2 separate regions of the Homo sapiens genome follow, and region 1 is linked to region 2. Evidence: fine-mapped QTL for protein levels in blood plasma. A gene starts in region 2. The other region holds a variant in brackets. All regions are shown on one strand. Distances are between the middles of the regions. Region 1 overlaps CA10 (carbonic anhydrase 10). Region 2 holds the start of CA10 (carbonic anhydrase 10).

Region 1 (8,335 bases), 23 kb before region 2:
GCAAGAGAGATGGTTTGACTGGAGAGGCACTGAGCATGACAACAACAGGATATGGTCCAGATGTGGCAGACAGTAAAGCACATGGGGGGCTAAGAAAATGGACTTTGAAAGAGGACTGCCTAAACTGGAATCCCAGTGCCACAGAGTGCTACTCATGGAACTGTTGTGAGCTATGTGAGTCAATTCTTCTAAAGTACTAAGCACAGTAAAGGAGAAAGGTGTGCTGTACCTGTTAACTGCTATATTATTCTGAATAATTAGAATGAAGACCAATATCTGACTTCTGGGTTTCTGACTTATATGTGGGGCACAGCAACAGGGAATGAAGGCACAGTGAACATGCAGAATTCAGCATCTTTCCTCAGGCTCTGGCCATCTGAGCACACTTGGTTTTAGTGAAGTTAGCTTATAGGCAGTTCTAGAAACAAATTTAGGGAGGATTTGGGGCCCTAAGCCTAGAGATTCCAAGGTCCTTGTATAGGTTAACACAATAGAAATGCATGTACCAGGTACAGAAGAGAGGGCCCTCATCAGGACTGGGGTACAAACTGGGGACTTGGTCCAGACACAGGTGACATCTCGTGGCTCAACCGAGGCACAGGACCACAGTGAGACAACAGCAAGGGTACCTTGGAGCAGAGCCTAATATATGGGGTGGAATTACAGGGCTTAAATCAGTGCTACCTCTTCTCAGGAGTAGCGCAGAGGACCATGGGCAGGCTGAGTATGCAGATAAGGATTATATGACTCCAAAGGTAAGGAAAAGCTGGGAGTTGGGCTGGACCTAATCCATGTTGCATGGAGCTGCTTCACTGCCCTGTCTGGGCCTCACCTTCTTGGTGAGCAAGCAATCTGGTACCATGCCCTTTGGTGAAATCAGGCATGGAACAGGTGACTGACCTTGGGGAACGAAAGCCAAGCTGCCATTCATCACAGCCCATGGTGCAAACCTCTAAGGTAAGCCTTGGAGCCTCCAGCGCCCCAGCGGTGGGGCATCCGTCCTCTGGGCAGGGAGCTTCAATTCACACAGCAGGAGAGCCATAACATAGCAGGAGACACACAGAAGGCCTTTAAATGTCTATTTTTTAAAGTGGTTAGCAAAGCAGGAGAGAAACTGTCAGAGATCCGCAATGCAGAGTTTAATCTGGAAAGTCAGTGAAGAGGTGGAAGGAAACAGAAAACAGGAGACTGGAAGAAGAGGCTTCAGGATTTGGGGAGAGCAAAGCAAAAAGTGTTAACAAGAAAAAAAAAACAGTTGCATATCAGAAACTGCTCAATTCTCATGTCAACATTTACAGAACACTGTTTTCCATTTTTCCGACTGCTCTATGCATTTGACAAATTTTTACTTGTTCTTAATTCTAGCTCAAAGTTCACCTCCTTTAGACAAAGCCATACCCTCTTCTGGCCTCTGTTTTAATAGATACAATGTTTGTAATAGCATATTTCAAAATATTGTGTAATGAATTGTGACTCTGGATATTATAGCCACTCATCATTTTCTTGAGGATATTTATCCTTATATCCCCAGGACTTAGTAAAGTTCCTGGCACATATTAGCTAATGGTCAATTAATGGTCACTTAATGAATAGAAGATTAATGAATGAAGAAGGAACCAAGGAGGGAAGATGCTTTATGACTGTACAGGGTGCATGCGAGGGGAGGCAGGAAGTGAGATCTATAAAGGTGTCTTAGCATATCATGCTGGTGATGTGAGCCAAGCTAAGCATTGCAGCTTTCATCCACTGGCAAGGTAGCATAATAAAAGGCTGTAAAGCAGAATGTTTCAAAGAGCTGTTCCCCCAGTGCCATCTTCACTCTATACGTTATTAATCTCATTTCTTCCCTACTTCGAACTAATGTGCTCACATTCAAAGATTTGGCATATATAGACCCATTCAAAACAAAATGTTTCAAGTTCTCCAGAAAATAATCCTAAACCTCAACTTCTTCAAGAAATAATCCTAAAATAACCTCCCATCAGCTTCTTTGTTACTCAGTATTTTATTCTTAACTTATTGTAACCTTGTACCTATTTATTTGTCCCTTGGGAGATGATGGTTTTCTTTAAGAGTTATGAGTGTACTTTCTAGTGCCAAACTTGGGTTCAAAGCCTAGCTCATCCACCCACAAGCTTTCTGTCTTTAACTAAATTATTTAATATCACTGAGTCTCAGTCTGTTCACCTCTATAGGCATGATAAATAATGCCTACCCACATGATTTCGGTAAGAATTGAAGGCTATTGTAAAGTTTAAACATGAACTAAACAATCAATACCAGCAGCTAGTAATAGTGGTTCTGCCAATATTAGTTAAAAATAATAATAATAGTAAGTTTGTTCTTATGCCCTGGCATACTCTCTGGGAGAAAGAATCATCTTCTCTTTCTTAGGTTATTATTTCTTTTTCTCTCCCCTCCTACAACTGCACATCTGCCTCTTCCCTTCACAGTATTTTGCAATTCTCTGTGTGACTCAAAGCAGAGCTCAGGTTATGCATGACAGCTGCCTCTTCCACTGTGCCCTGGCACCATGGATGTCACTGCCATCCTCCACCCCATGCATGAGCCAGAACCCTGGGCTCCTTCTGACTCACCATTCTCCCTCACCCCCACCATACACAGTTCATCAGGCTCTGTGAATCCACATCCTGAACGGCTCCTGATGCTGGCCATTGCTCTCCATGTGTGCCATCACCTTCAACAGGTTACCTGCATCTCCAACCCAGACTGCCACCAGAGCCTCCTGACTGCCCTCCTGAGGTCGCCTGTGAGAAATAAAAATGGAATCCTAAGCCCCCCAACTGAATGGACCCTCTATTGGCCAAGGGGACCCCAGATTAACCTTAAAAATTGAGTTCTCAGCCATGACAGGATGAGAGGTCAGACATGCCTCAGTATATCCCTCCCTCGCTAACCATGTTAGGCTTTCCTCCCTAAGGGATAAACAGAAACTAGCTCTTTGGAAAGACTCCACTTTTGATACCAACAAACCACCTGATGCTGCCCCTCCTTTTTTTGCCTGAGAAAAGACCACTGACCATGCAGTGGTTCTGGCCAGTCTATGGAGAATGTGCAGTAAAGGCTTTTGTGTCCTCTGCTTCACCTTTTGACATCAGAGAGCTCAAAACTCCACCCTTGGATCATGCTAATGCTACCATTTTTTTTGTACATGGGACCCACAAATGGGCATGAAGTTCAATTGCACAGGACCACGTTTCTCCTTTCATGAATATTCATGACTCCTCCTATAGCTTATTAAATATGTATATTTGGCCACCTTGCTCAGCGCACGTTCCTATTCCCTTTACCTCTCCCTTGAAGTGTCTGTTTCTAGCTTCTGGCAAGAGGCTATGCTTCCTAGCCTGTGGGAATGGGCACCCTGCAGGCTGCAACACTTTATGAGAAATAAAGCTGTTTTCCCAAATTTATGAATCTTGTCATTCTTCAGTTGATACTTGTCTCCCTCTCTGCTTCTCATTACTGCTCAATTCTCCACTCTGTAGCTGGAGGGGTCTTCTTAAAGCATAACTACGATCATGTGAAACCCCCACCCTAAGGCCCTCTCCTGGCTTCCCCATTGCTCTTAGCATACACATCCAAGTTGTTAAACATGGCTGTTTAATAATCATGCTTATTATCTGTGCTGGAGCCACACTGACTTTATATCAGGTCCCCTCTTTGCATAGGCTGCTATTGTTTCCTCCAATAAGCTCTCCAAATAAATAAGCCTTGCATAATACTGCTTAAAACCAAAGTTAAGTCCTGAACTCTGAACTAGGAAGGTCTCTTTTTAGTTCAGGATACTGTATGTCACTGATATAAAGCACTGTGTGGAGACAAGTCTCAGAGAAAAAGACGAGGCTGGCAGAATATAAGAGAAAGTGACGGATGGAGGAACTGGATGCCTAAAAGCACTTCATTTCACTTTTCTAAATGTGCCCTGTCAAAATGAAGGGAGCAGACCCAGTAAGGCTGAAGTTAGTGGTTGCACAATAAAGTAGAATATTTATCTTCGCTCTGGAGCTGCAGACCATTAGCATTAGAAAACACCACCAAGTCTGTCTCCTAACATGCCTGGGGCCCTCG[G/A]AATGGGGAGGATCCTGATTTAATGAGCAAGTTACACCATCTGTCAACAGGACGGCTGAGAGGTAATTCAGCCAACAGCAGCTCCCAGAATTTAAGGAGCAAAACACTTGTGTGCTATTTGTGTAAGACATGGCCCCTAGCTTCACGGTCAAGGAATCCTACGCACCCTAACTACTCAAGCTGGGAGTGAGGGGTGGTATCTGTGTGTCTTGCTCACAGTCCAGCCAGCTTCAGCTTTTTTGTGTGGGTGCTTGATGAGCTTTGCAGAAGGGAGACATCCAGCTAGAAATAGGGTCCTGGAGAGTTCCCTCTGCCCCCCTTTCTGAGCCTAATAATTTCTGGCAAGAGGCTACAACACGTATTAACATAAACAATATCACTGGCCAAAGTATTCACACTGTTATGGATGGAAGGAAGGAGGTGACAGAAGAGAGTATATTTCATGTATATTCCTTGTGAGACACGATTTTGAAATGGAAATAATCTAAGAGAATAAATTTTGCACCTAGATTAGTGAAAGCAACATGGAGTTGCTTTGGAAAATACCTCAGTTGTAAAATAATGTGATCTTTTACTAAATGAACTGGTAATTAATATCAAAATGAGGAATTTTTTCCCTGTAAAAATTAGTCAACTTGGAAATCTATATAAATTCTTCTTCTGTATTTCTATAGCTCATTTTATAATACTTATTAAATTTTGAAGTTTACGGATGTGGGGATTTTTTTTTTTTCACACACACTTGTGAGTCCCTAGGCCAGAGCTTGGCACACAGGGAGGTAGGGTGGCAAAAGTGTATGGACCCAAAAGTCAAATAACAGGAAATTCAAATCCCAGCTCTCTTACCTAGCAGTATGAATTTGGTCATATTTCCTAAGCCTCAGCTTCCTCATCTGCAGAATGGGGAGAACAACTATCCATTTCTCCAGGGTTGATGTGACAATTAAATGAAATAAATAATATAAAATATTACTATTATCTGTAACACACAGGAATCACTCAATAAATATTGACTACTGTTAGATATTCAAGTGAAAATATTCATTTCAGCATAATGCTTTTATGCATAAATTGTTGTGAAATCATCTTGACATCCTAACTCCCATTGTTCAAAACAAACAATATAAATTTGGGTAGGATTTGATATGAAGAGACAACTGAAAATCAGTTAAATATAAGCCTGGTATCTATGAACTTCTTGACTGTCAGCTTTGAGTCTTACTCTCTTATTCTCCTTTGAAGCTATAATATCTTTCACAGTGCTTGGCACTCAGCTCCAGAAGCTATAATATCTTTCACAGTGCTTGGCACTCAGCTCCAGTAAATATTTATTTAATAAATGGAACATTTGTTGAATAAATCACGGGGTGAATAAAGTGGGTGAACAATCTGAACAATCACAAGCAATTTTACTTAGCTTGTTTACCCAACCTAGCTTTAGGAATCTATTAGAATGCTATCAAAAAGTAGAGAGCACTGGATGCGGGAAATATTAATAATTTTTCTAGCTTTCCTTCACCACAGCTGTGGTGGACATTTGTCATGCTCCCTGGACTGTCATCACATTCTGAATACCTATCCTATGTGCATCAGTTTCCCATTGCTGCTGTAACAAATTACTACACATTTAGTAGCTTAAAACAACACAAATGTATTATCTTACAGTTCTGGAGCTCAGAAATCTGAAATGAATCTTAAGGGGCTAAAATCAAGGTGTCAGCAGGCATGTGTTCTTTCTTGAGGCTCCAGGGAAGAATTAATTTCCTTGTCTTTTCCAGCTACTGGGGATCTTTTGCATTTCTGGTAACTCCCTTCCTTCCTCTTCAAAGCACATCAATCCAACCTCAGCTTCTGTTCTCACATCTTCTTTTTCTGACTCTGATCATTCTGCCCCTCTTTTATAATGACTTTTGTGATTACATTTGGCCCACCCAGATAATCTAGGATAATCTCCCAATCTCAAGATCTTTAATCATGAATGCTAAATCCCTTTTACCATGTAAAATAAACATATTCATAGGTTCCTGGCATTAGAATTAGGACACAAACATCTTTGGGAGGCTATTCTTCAGCCAACTCACTATATTTGGAGTATTTCCTGCCTTTTGTATCCAGTCCCACCCAGGTAGAAACCTGTACTTTACTTTGGACAGGATGCAGGCATGTGACTGAACTTAGTCATTCAGATGCCTGAGATTATGGTTCTAAAGTGAACAGCATGAGCAAGCAGGTTTGATATCAAATCCATCTTCTGGTGAGGTTGGTAGCAGCAGTGTCCAGCTTTCTGGATACCAATGGTGTATAGAGCTCAGTCCACACCAGTGATGAGATCTGGCTGTTTCTACACAGCAGTGGCAGGAGTCTTTTTTTAGAGCAATGCCATAATATACCCTTGTAAGTACAATTTCCAATTACTATTTTTTGGCCTACCCTCAGACTCTGTGAGCACCTCAAGTGCTTTAATAAAAAATTTTTTCTGCTTATAGTAGTCCTGAAGGTTTCATTATTTATAACTAAGGAACCCAGTGGACACAGCCTCCTGTGCTAGGTTGTAAGAAGCGCTTGCAGGGAGGCTGACGGAGTGCTCCTAGAAAATTGGAACAGCAGACAATCATTTGGGGCACCATTTAGGTGCCAAGTACTTAGTAAAAAAGGCCCTGAAGAAATGGAATGCAATCATTCAAACTAGGAGTTGGTAAATTGCGCTGTTCTTTATAATACCCGGTGTAGGGGGAGGAGAGAAAGAGAATATCCTATGGAGGTCTGTTCTGAGACTTTGATCTTCATCTCTTCTCAATATGACAGACCAATTCAGATAGAATTCTGTTTGTGAAGGAACAGCAAGAGAGATTTTGATTACTGATTCTGGTCAGCATGGATGCACCCCTCAGTGATTTTCAAAGCACTTTATGGCCTTTAGTTGTTTACATTAAATTAAATAGTCTTGGATATCCATTAGTTTAGAAAGCAAAATTATATCTGGCTTAAAACTGCTTTTTGCCTACTGCCTCATTCGCCTCTGCATTATCTAGAACTTGCTCACATATGGCTCTTACTTTATCCATCTGTAAGACAAGGTGATTTTTTTTTTTTTTTCGAAATAATGCATTTCCATCCCTCTCTGTTCGGTGTCTTTTGCTTGCAGTTTGGAGAGCTTGGTTCAAATCCTAACTCTAGCAGTTAGTAGCTGGGTGACTTGAACTAGTTACTTAACCTCTCTGAGCTTCCTTTTTCTACAAAATGTTGATAATATACTCCCAAACAGACTTGTAGTGAAGATTGAATAAGTATGTGATATGGTGGCTGAGCTCAGACTCTGGATTCAGACAGGTCCACATTCAAATCTTAGCTTACATCTTAACAGCTGTGTGCTCCTCAGTGTTACCTGGGTGCCTGTCTCCTCTCAATAGAATCAGAGATGGATAAGAAGTCCCTCATAGGGTTAGAGATAAAATGAGATAATAAATGGACAGCACTTTGCACAGTGCCTGTTAGGTTCTAATATTATGAACAGTTAAGTGGCTGTTTGGAGTGGGTGTTTGGAGTGAATTAAGGAATTATCAAACGAAAGAATAAAATCAACTTCATGTTTTCAAACACCCCCACCACCACCTTCTCTCAACACGGTCTCTAGTGATCTGAAATCCTTTCTAAATAATTGTTTAAAAGTTGTTACCACTAACAGAGATCAGATCTGTGGTTGCCTGCACAAGGATTGGAGAGGGACTGACTACAAAGAAACATACAGAAATTTGGGGAGTGATAAAAATGTTCCACATCTTAGTTGCGGTGGTGGTTATAGGACTGTCTTTTTTACCCCAAACTCATCAAACCATATAATTAAAATGAGTGCATTTTATGTTTAATGTACTTCAATAAAAGTTTATATTAATTAATGTATTATGCTTCTAGAGCAAGGGTTAGCAAACATTTTTCTGGGAAGGGACAGATAGAAAGTAATTTGAGCTTTGCCGGCCTTAGGCTCTGTTGCAGCTACTCAACTTTGCCCCTACGGTGTAAATGTAGCCATCGAAAATAGATACTAGACAGTACATAAATGAATGAGTGTGGTTGTTTTCAATCAAACACAATTCATGAACCAAAATTTGTTTTCATATAATTTTCATGTGTCATGAAATATATTATTTCCTCTTTTGATTTTTTTCCCCAACTATCTGAAAATGTAACAACCATTCTTAGCCCCTGGGCCTTACAAAGACAAGGCAGTAGGCTGGATTTGGTCAGT
Region 2 (8,335 bases):
CTTTTCCAGCCTGGTGTTTCTCAATAATGAAGCCAACTCTATCAATGCTTCAAGTATCAATGTCTGGTAACTCTGTAAGGATTAGCACCCACTTAGTGGTCAGGAAAATTCATTCCAAGATGCTAAAGAGGTGCTTTGTTTTTAATATTTTTAATTTAAGATTTAGTAGATTCTATGATCACAGGGTTATGTTCCTTTCAATAGAGCTCAGTCATGAGTAAATTAAAACTGCAAATCATGGAGACAGAAATGAAAGATCCACTAAACTCTCTCAAAGCCACAAATATTCAACCTTAGTGCATTGCATTTCCTATACATCCTAAGGCTGCCAGATGGAAAAAGAATGGAGTCTGAGTCTCCCAAACTGTAGCAATTGTGAGTCATAATCATATTACTAATAATAATTCTCACATACATGGGCATTACTGAATGAGTGGCTCTGCTTACAGGAGGATGAGGCCACCCTGACCATGGAGAAGAAATGGCCTTTTAAAGTTTATGGATGTGTAAAATAAAGAGTATATGATGTTGCATCCCTGCCTAAATGTCTTCATAAAGTGCAAATTAATGCAGATCCTAACTAGGCATTTGGAACGCTAACCTAGTTTTCTGTGTTTAGCTAATAGCTAGCAATTTTGCTTACACTTTTATCCTCTCATTACATAGCAATAATGATTATTTAGTAAATACATATGAAAGGCCATGTACTCCATAGCACTCCTCCTGAGTTGGAAATCCCCCTCCTAATGCTTCCATTTGAATAATTTAGTTGCTGATACACCAAATCAAATATAGCTGTGACAGGTATCCCACTAATGCTTTTTTTGGAGGCTAAGATCAGACCCTTTCTCAGCCTGTTCCCCTCGGTGATTGCCTGGCGAAATTCAGGGTAAGGGCTGGGGACAGAGAGGATGCTGGAGGAAATCCAGAGCCTTAATCAATGTTAACCCTTTATAAATCTTAAAGGTACTCAGATGGCTTGTCTGATTTGAAAATTATTAATGACACTGGGGAGAAGTAAGGAAAGGCTATTTTATAACTAGTCAAATATTCTGGAACAAGAGAGAGAGTTTGAAATAGACATGTAGAAGAGAAAGATGTAAAATATGGCCTTGTGAGATGCCACCCACTTCATATCTGGACATATGACTGATATAAACCTTTACAAGTCACTTGAGAATTTTCACTCCTAGATGCAGAATGGAATAATAGAAGTCCCACTAGAGGAGTTGGGGTGACCCCAGGGCACATTTTCTTGTCTGCCAGGTACACAACACATCTCACTGATGTATCACAGAGACAAATTTCTTAATAGGGTAGCCAAGCCCCACACAGAATGATTTCGGATAAGAGTCCCATTCCTTCCCTATGAGGAGAAAATTGGAAGCCAGACTGGGATTTGGAACAGAGTCCAGGGTGAGGGCAGAACTAGGGTTGTTTTCTCCTATCCAGAATCAGGTCTGGCTTAAAGGGAGGGGATTGACAGGGCTGAAGGAAGAGGCAGGAAACATGTCTCTCCACCCCAGTGCTGCTTAAATGTGGCTGCTCAAAGGGGCAATATCCTGCTCTCCTCTTCTGATGACTTCATGGGAAGTTGGCCGAGTCCCCACTTCTGCAGAAGAATGCAGGCAGAAGGGAGCACTACAAATGGGCTTTTCCTTGGGTGCTTAAGTGGCAGGTGTGAAGGGAAATGGGGTGGGTGCCTTCAATGGGAGGAGCCACTGAACTGGGGAATACTGCTGGTCCAGGGGCTTTCCCCTTTCCCTCCCAGCTTCCTCCCAACCCCAATTCCCTGCATCAACAAAGACAGTGCTCAAAAACCAGAACTCGTCCTAACACACTCAGGCACAGGTGTCCACAAGCCCAACCTCTTTCACCTCAACACCCTGAAATCCCGTTTGCTCTTAAAAGCACAGACAGGCCCAAGTAGACTGAGAGGTCTGAGCCAGCACATCCTTGCTACTGGGAATTAAAAAACACCGTGATGTAAAGAAAGTGGTATTTGTGACACTGTAGTGCTTTAACAAGAAAATTGGGGGGGTAGAGGAGGGTGTGTCAGCAGGTTTCAAAGCATCACAATCAGTCCTGATGTGTTTGGGTAAGGCATGGAGGACATATCTCTGATCCCTGCTGGTACTCTCCAGTCCCGCATCCTCCCGCAGTCTCTTGAAAGTGGTTAGATACCCGGGCAGGGCCCCGCGTCCATTTTGCCAGCCAGGAACCACCGAGTCTGGGAACTTTGAAAGCCAGGGGATGGGGGTGGTTGTTGCCAAGGCTCGGATTTCGGCGCCAGAGTTCTCAGCCAGGAAAGCAGTTGAAAATCAACACCCATCTGCCTCTTCTTTCTCATCCCCCACCACTTTTTCCTTCACCCTTCTAGGACTGCACACAGATCCTAACCACCCCCCCCCGCAAAACACACACATTCACACACCCTTGGGCTGAGAAGATTTTTGATTCTGAAGGCGGCAAACCCGCAGAACTCAAAGGGTCTCGCCACCCCTCTCTCTGCCCCGCGGCTATATACAATAAAACCCCATACACCCCAGACATCACAACATAATCCAAATCAGCCAGTGACTTCGGCGCGTCCCGTACCTGATATGCAGACGATGAAATTGGCTTGAAGAAGAAAAAGCACCTCCCAGACTATTTCCATCCTCTGATTCTCATTCCAAGTGCATCACTCGACGGGAAAACGGGGGGAAGGGGGGAGCCCGACACGGCACACACACATACACACTCGCACACACTTCCGAGCGAGTGCACACTCGCACTCCCACCCGACAGCCGGCCAGGGACAGTCACCCCCAAGATCAATATCGCAGTTTGAATTGTTCCGGCAAATCTCCCCTCGGGCTCGACGGATGTGCGCCCCAGATGTGCTGACACATGTCCGATGCCTCGCTGCCTTGGAGGTCTCCCCGCTCGCGTGTCTCTTCTCTTCGCACCAGCGGCGGAAACCGCACTAGCAGCGGCGGCGGCGGCGGCGGCGGCAGCAGCCACCTGAAGCCACCAACACTGGGCTCTTCCAGCAAAAACGAGACCCCGATTCGTCTGGCGCCCCAAGAAGACATAGACGATAGCCCCCCGCCGGGCTGCGCCGTGCAATTCCGGGCTCCCGGGAGCGCGTAGCTCGCTGGCTAAGCCCAGGCAGTCCGCGGCAAGTTGCCCTCGAAGTCCGCCCCCCTCACCGGGGCATGGTCGGAGGGTGGCTGCTGCGCTCCGGGGCAGTTCTTCTCCTGCTTCCGGGGGGCGGGGAAGGAGCAGACACAGCAGACACACAGAGAAAGAGAGGCAGGGATTATTGCCCGAAACCGCCAGCCGCCGGCAGCCTCCGCCGACCCTCCCTGCTCCCCAGGTCCGCGCGCAGCCTGCAGCCTCTCAGCCGGGTTCCGGCAGTGCGTCCAGGGCGCCGAGGGGAAGGGCTGGGCCCCGGGGACTGGGGCGCGGTGGGGGCACACAGACTCTCCAGGTCGCGCGCGCCCTTCCTGCTCCTCTGCTATTTTCCTGAACTCCCCAGAACCCCCAGTTGCCTGGCTTCCATCGCCCGCAACTAGCGCCGCTGTCGAGATTTTCCGCAATACAACTGCAGGGGTCGTTATTTCCTCGCCTACGGATCCCTACGCTTCCCAACTCAGAGAGGAGGAGGACAGGTGGGGGCGGGAGGGGGAGGAGGAGAAGGAGGCTTGGCCAGGTGAGCGTCCTCGCCGCCGCCGGGCGTCCCAGCGTCAGCTCCGCAGCCCGGCACCCGGGGGCGGAGGCAGGAGGCCCGGGCGGGGAGGTGAGGCTGAGCGCGGCCATGAGGAGGAGGAGGAGGAGGCTGGGTGTCACAGCTTCAGGCCACCTTGGCCGCCGCCTCGGCCCCAGTCCCTGGCAGCCGCCTCCGCACTCCGCCCCGCCCTGGCTGCCTCTGTTACCCTCCAGGATTTTCGAGTTTCTCTTCTTAAAAAGAACTTCGTGCTGCGGGTTCGGCGCGGGAGACCCAGGCAGGACTCATCCTGGGAGTGCTGTGCTGTGCTCTCCCTCCGCTGCGAAATATTGGAGATTTTTTTGCATAATTCATTCCCTGCCCTCTCCATTTCGTCCCTCTCATGCCCCCCACCCTTTACCCCTTTCCGTGCCAGTGCCAGAACACTACTTACCCCAGAGTTCTTTTCTCTGCAGGTTCCTAGACCAGGTGCAACTCTTGCCTGCAAGTCCCTGCCTCCCTCCTCCCGAAAAGGGGGAACACCGCCTTTCCAAGTCCGGGTGCCAGCAGCGGCTGCTGCCAACTGCGCCTTCGCCCAACTCCAGGAGGATCCGGGACTATTGGAAACCCGGGCTTTAGAGGAACGGGCTTCCCTTCTTGTCTTTCTTTTATTCTGCTTTTCTTTAGGGAAGCTCTAGTGCTTTGGAGGCTTTTGCTGGGCTCCAGGATACTTTCCGCCAACGACACTCAGCAGCTTCCACTGAAGGAGATTTCCCCACCAAACCCGCGCGCGCACACACACACACACCCAGCGCGCGGCTCTCCAGGGCCCCAGGGGAAAGTAGGGGCGGCGCGAGCACCACCCACCCACCCAGGCCGAGGCCAGGGGCAGCCAGTCCGCAGAAGGTCTCGTGGGGAGGCGGGCTGTCTATAACCTAGGAAAGACTTGCACCCGGTTGCAGTGTGGATGCAGGGGAATTGAAGAAAACCCTGTGCTCAGAACTGCTTGCCTAAGAGGGCTGGGAACGAAAGGGGAAAGACAAAATCTCAACAGATTTGTCTGCTTCCATCGCTGCAGTGGTGGTTTGCGAAAGCTCAAACCTACCTCTTTGGGGTTATTGAAGAAGAGGAGGGAGCGTAGAGGGAATCCCTGGGAAGATCCAGGATTTCTCGGCGCGCTTGTCCCGATTGGGAACTGTGACGTTAGGAGATTTTGCACAAGCGCGGATGAACACACACATAACAAACACAAACACACACATACCCCGCGGGGATTTTTTATCCACTTTTAATATTTGATGTTTAGAAGCTATTTCAGTATAAACCTCGGTCTAAGAACTGCACAAAGGGTAGATAAGTGGAGATGGAGGAGGGGAAGGAAAGGGTGCCCGTTCATCCGCACAGAGTCAATCTAGTGAATCTTCCCGTGTTGATCCCAGCACCCAGGCTGTGCGACATCTGAGGGTGCGGAGTGGGAGCTAAAGGAGTTACATTACAGTGCTCCCAGGGTTCTTGAAGGGACTCCAACTGCCCAGGAGTCTGGCGGGTCTTTTTGCTGAGTGGCGGGGAGAAGAGGGAGGAAAAAGAGAGAACGCAGAGCAGATCAGCAGCTCTCTGAGCTGTCTGGGCTGGGCGGCTGCGGGAGCCAGAGCTACGTAGTCCCACCGACTCTAGGGATTCGAAAAAGGAACCGCCGACAGACCTGCCTACTCTTAAAGAAGGAGATGTGGCCGTGAGATCTGTTCTGTGAAACAAAGGCCAAGGACTCTAGGTGGTCAACACATTAAAAATCTAGGCCCAGATGAAATAAATCCAGCATTCTTATGTAGAGAGCTTCCAGGCTCAGCAGGGAAAAGCATGAAACTTCAGAACATTAAAAGAATTCCGGATAGTGAGAATTAGCCCATTTGGGAAATATATGGGGGCATTTGTCTCCGTGCCTTGAAAGTAGACTGCATGAAGAATTATTATTATTTTTTCTTTCTTTCTTTCTTTCTTTCTTTCTTTCTTTCTTTCTTTCTTTCTTTCTCTCTTTTTTCTTTTTTCTTTTTCTTTTTTTGAGGAGAGAGGGAGAAAGAAAAAAAAAAAAGCAGTCTGACAAAGATGAGCAGATTCCAGCCTGGTGAGAGTTCAGAACCGTGGACAGCGACCTACCATCCCTGCTTGGGTGGGGAGATAGGCTGGCAGAAGAGGTCTCTCCTCTGGAAGCAGAAGCATGGTGCCTGAATTTTTATGTCACTACCCACTCATTTACTAATGAATTCTGCAATTATTAAGTGTCTTATATGTGTCAAACACTGTGGCAAGATGCTTGGGCTTTGTAATTGAAAATGCATTATCCTTGCTTTCAAAAAAATCTGCAGACCATATATCCCTCTATATTCTGCTTTAAGAGCCAATGCCAGTAAAATAATACTTTATTTCCACCCTTTCAGTCTGCATACTCACCTCCAGCATTCCCAAAGAATATTTAATCTGTGATCTGCCACTAAGTGCTTTCAGTTTTTAAAAAAGGCAACTCACATGACAGTATTTGTTAGTTTAAAAAAAGTTTGAGTGTATTGATTGTTGTGTGTGAAGTATTATGTGTATTGATTGTTATGTGTGAAGACTATGTGTGAAGATTCTGAATCCCTTACATAAATTATCTCATTTAATCATCATAATGTGATGGTGAGATAAATGTCATTATCACTTCCCTTTTACTGACAATAAAACAATACCAGGGTAGTTATTTGCCCAAGGCTCCACAGCTGCAAATCAGTAGTGTAGAGACCATAGCTGGAAAGTCTAAACTCAGAAGTCATGTCACACCACTTCCTTATATGCTCTGTAAAATGAAAAATATCATCTTGGGGAGGTTATTTTGCACTTAAAGAGAACAGAAGTACACATATGACAGCTGGAAGTTAATCAAAGGTGGTATTAAAATTTAATGGTAGACAATGCAATTTAGAACCCAACTACATTAGTTGGGATAAGGAAAAGATCACTGGGAATCAGAAGTAATCAAAAGCGTTTCTAATGATAGAATTTTGGCACCTGCTAGATGTCAGTTCTGGTTCTGGCACTTGGAATACAGCAGTGAACACAATAGTCCCCAACATATTGATTCCATACTAGCAATTGCTAGAAGAAAGAGCCATACATTTTTGAGTCATTTCTAGGCTACTACATTTCTAGAGTAGGTTGCTATATGTTTTTCTGAGAAATTCACCATCTTAATACAGAAAATAACTCAGTAAAAAAAAATGCATTAAATAGAAGCCTTTAAATTTAAGTAAATTCTGCCTCTCTTTTTTGTTGTTTTTTTAGCCCAAAAAACAAACCAAATAAATGTGGGAAAAAAATTCCATGAAGCTAGAAAATATTCTTAGACGTTTTCATATTTTAATGTGCTTATATGTATATCTAAATAACTACAAAGAATCTCTCCACATCATACCCGCCTTTATCTTTTGTTCCTTTCCTACTCCTCTACATTTCTGCACTACAAATCAAGTGTAAGTATCTTACACATTTAACAGAGAGTCTTGGCCAAGCCCACCCAAGTGTGAGAGATACCAATTGTCCTATAGAAAGCAAGGAATTATATTTCCATTTTCCAAGAGAGAATAATATTAAATTCCTTTGGGTTCTTCCTGTACCTTCTCTTTCACTCAACGCCATAGAAGAAGGGATGACTCAACTGATGATAAACTTTTAAGAGTTTGACTTTCATTAGGGTGCATTTATCAGAGGCCAAGCACACTGTATTAGAAGACAAAGGAAATCTATACCTCTTCCCACTTCTCTATTTTCTTGGTAATGCTACCTTCAGGCACAGTGAGCTCACAATTTTAGTGTGTGTACCTATGCATATTTATTTTGTATGCCACTCTCAAAGAGCAGAGCTAGTAAGGTCTCTGCTTTCTTGCAGTACTTAGCTTTCTGGGGCCAGTCACAATCATGCATGTGGCTGGGAAAGCATATTTAGAGCCTTCTTTGTAGACCCAACCATCCTTATAAGTGATGTTCTAGTTTTGAATTTGGGGTGAATAATTGGAAAATGCCACTTCAAAACACATCAAGCTCTATTTAAGGACTGTCCCATTCCCATTTAGAAAATGTTTCTATTTTTAATTGCTTAGATGCCAGAGGGAAAGAAAAGTTAGTGATGAAGCTACCCCTAACTTCTACCAAAAAGATAAAATTACCCAAATAAATGGAAAGATATACCATGTTCATGAATGAGAAAGCTCAATATTGTTAAAATACCAATTTTCCCCAAACTGATCTATAGAGTCAATATAATCCTAATAAAAATCCCAGCAAATTTTTAAATAGAAATTGTCAAGCTGTTTCTAAAATCCATATAAAAATACTAGGGAACTAAAATAGCCAAAACACTTTGGAAAAAGATAAACAAAGCTGGAATATTTAAATTATGTAACTTCAAGGCTTATAAAGCTATAGTAATCAAGACAATGTAGTACAAGACAATGTAGTAGAATATAGACAAATCAATAGAACAGAGAGAGTCTAAAAATAGTCTGACATATATTGATTGAGTTGATTTTCAACAAAGGTGCACACTCATTTCCTTGGAGGAAGAATAGTCTTTTTAACAAATCGCCTTTTCAATATTTCGATGTCTATTTTTGA

Evidence for each region. PIP is the posterior inclusion probability: the model's chance that the variant is causal. Sun 2018 read protein levels with aptamers (SomaScan).
Region 1: its variant is fine-mapped to the plasma level of the CA10 protein (Sun 2018, PIP 0.95).

The regions. Positions count from the first base shown.
Region 1 is chr17:52,132,282-52,140,616 of GRCh38, forward strand. All of the region lies in intron 1 of CA10 (carbonic anhydrase 10), which reads right to left. Among named protein-coding and RNA genes, the nearest start is that of CA10, 22 kb to the right of the region's middle. The variant G/A (reference allele first, on the strand shown) is at 4,090.
Region 2 is chr17:52,155,128-52,163,462 of GRCh38, forward strand. CA10 (carbonic anhydrase 10) reads right to left here and starts at 3,587. Exons shown (of 9, transcript NM_020178.5): 1 at 2,599-3,587. The coding sequence starts at 2,659. RefSeq lists a silencer at 4,142-4,436.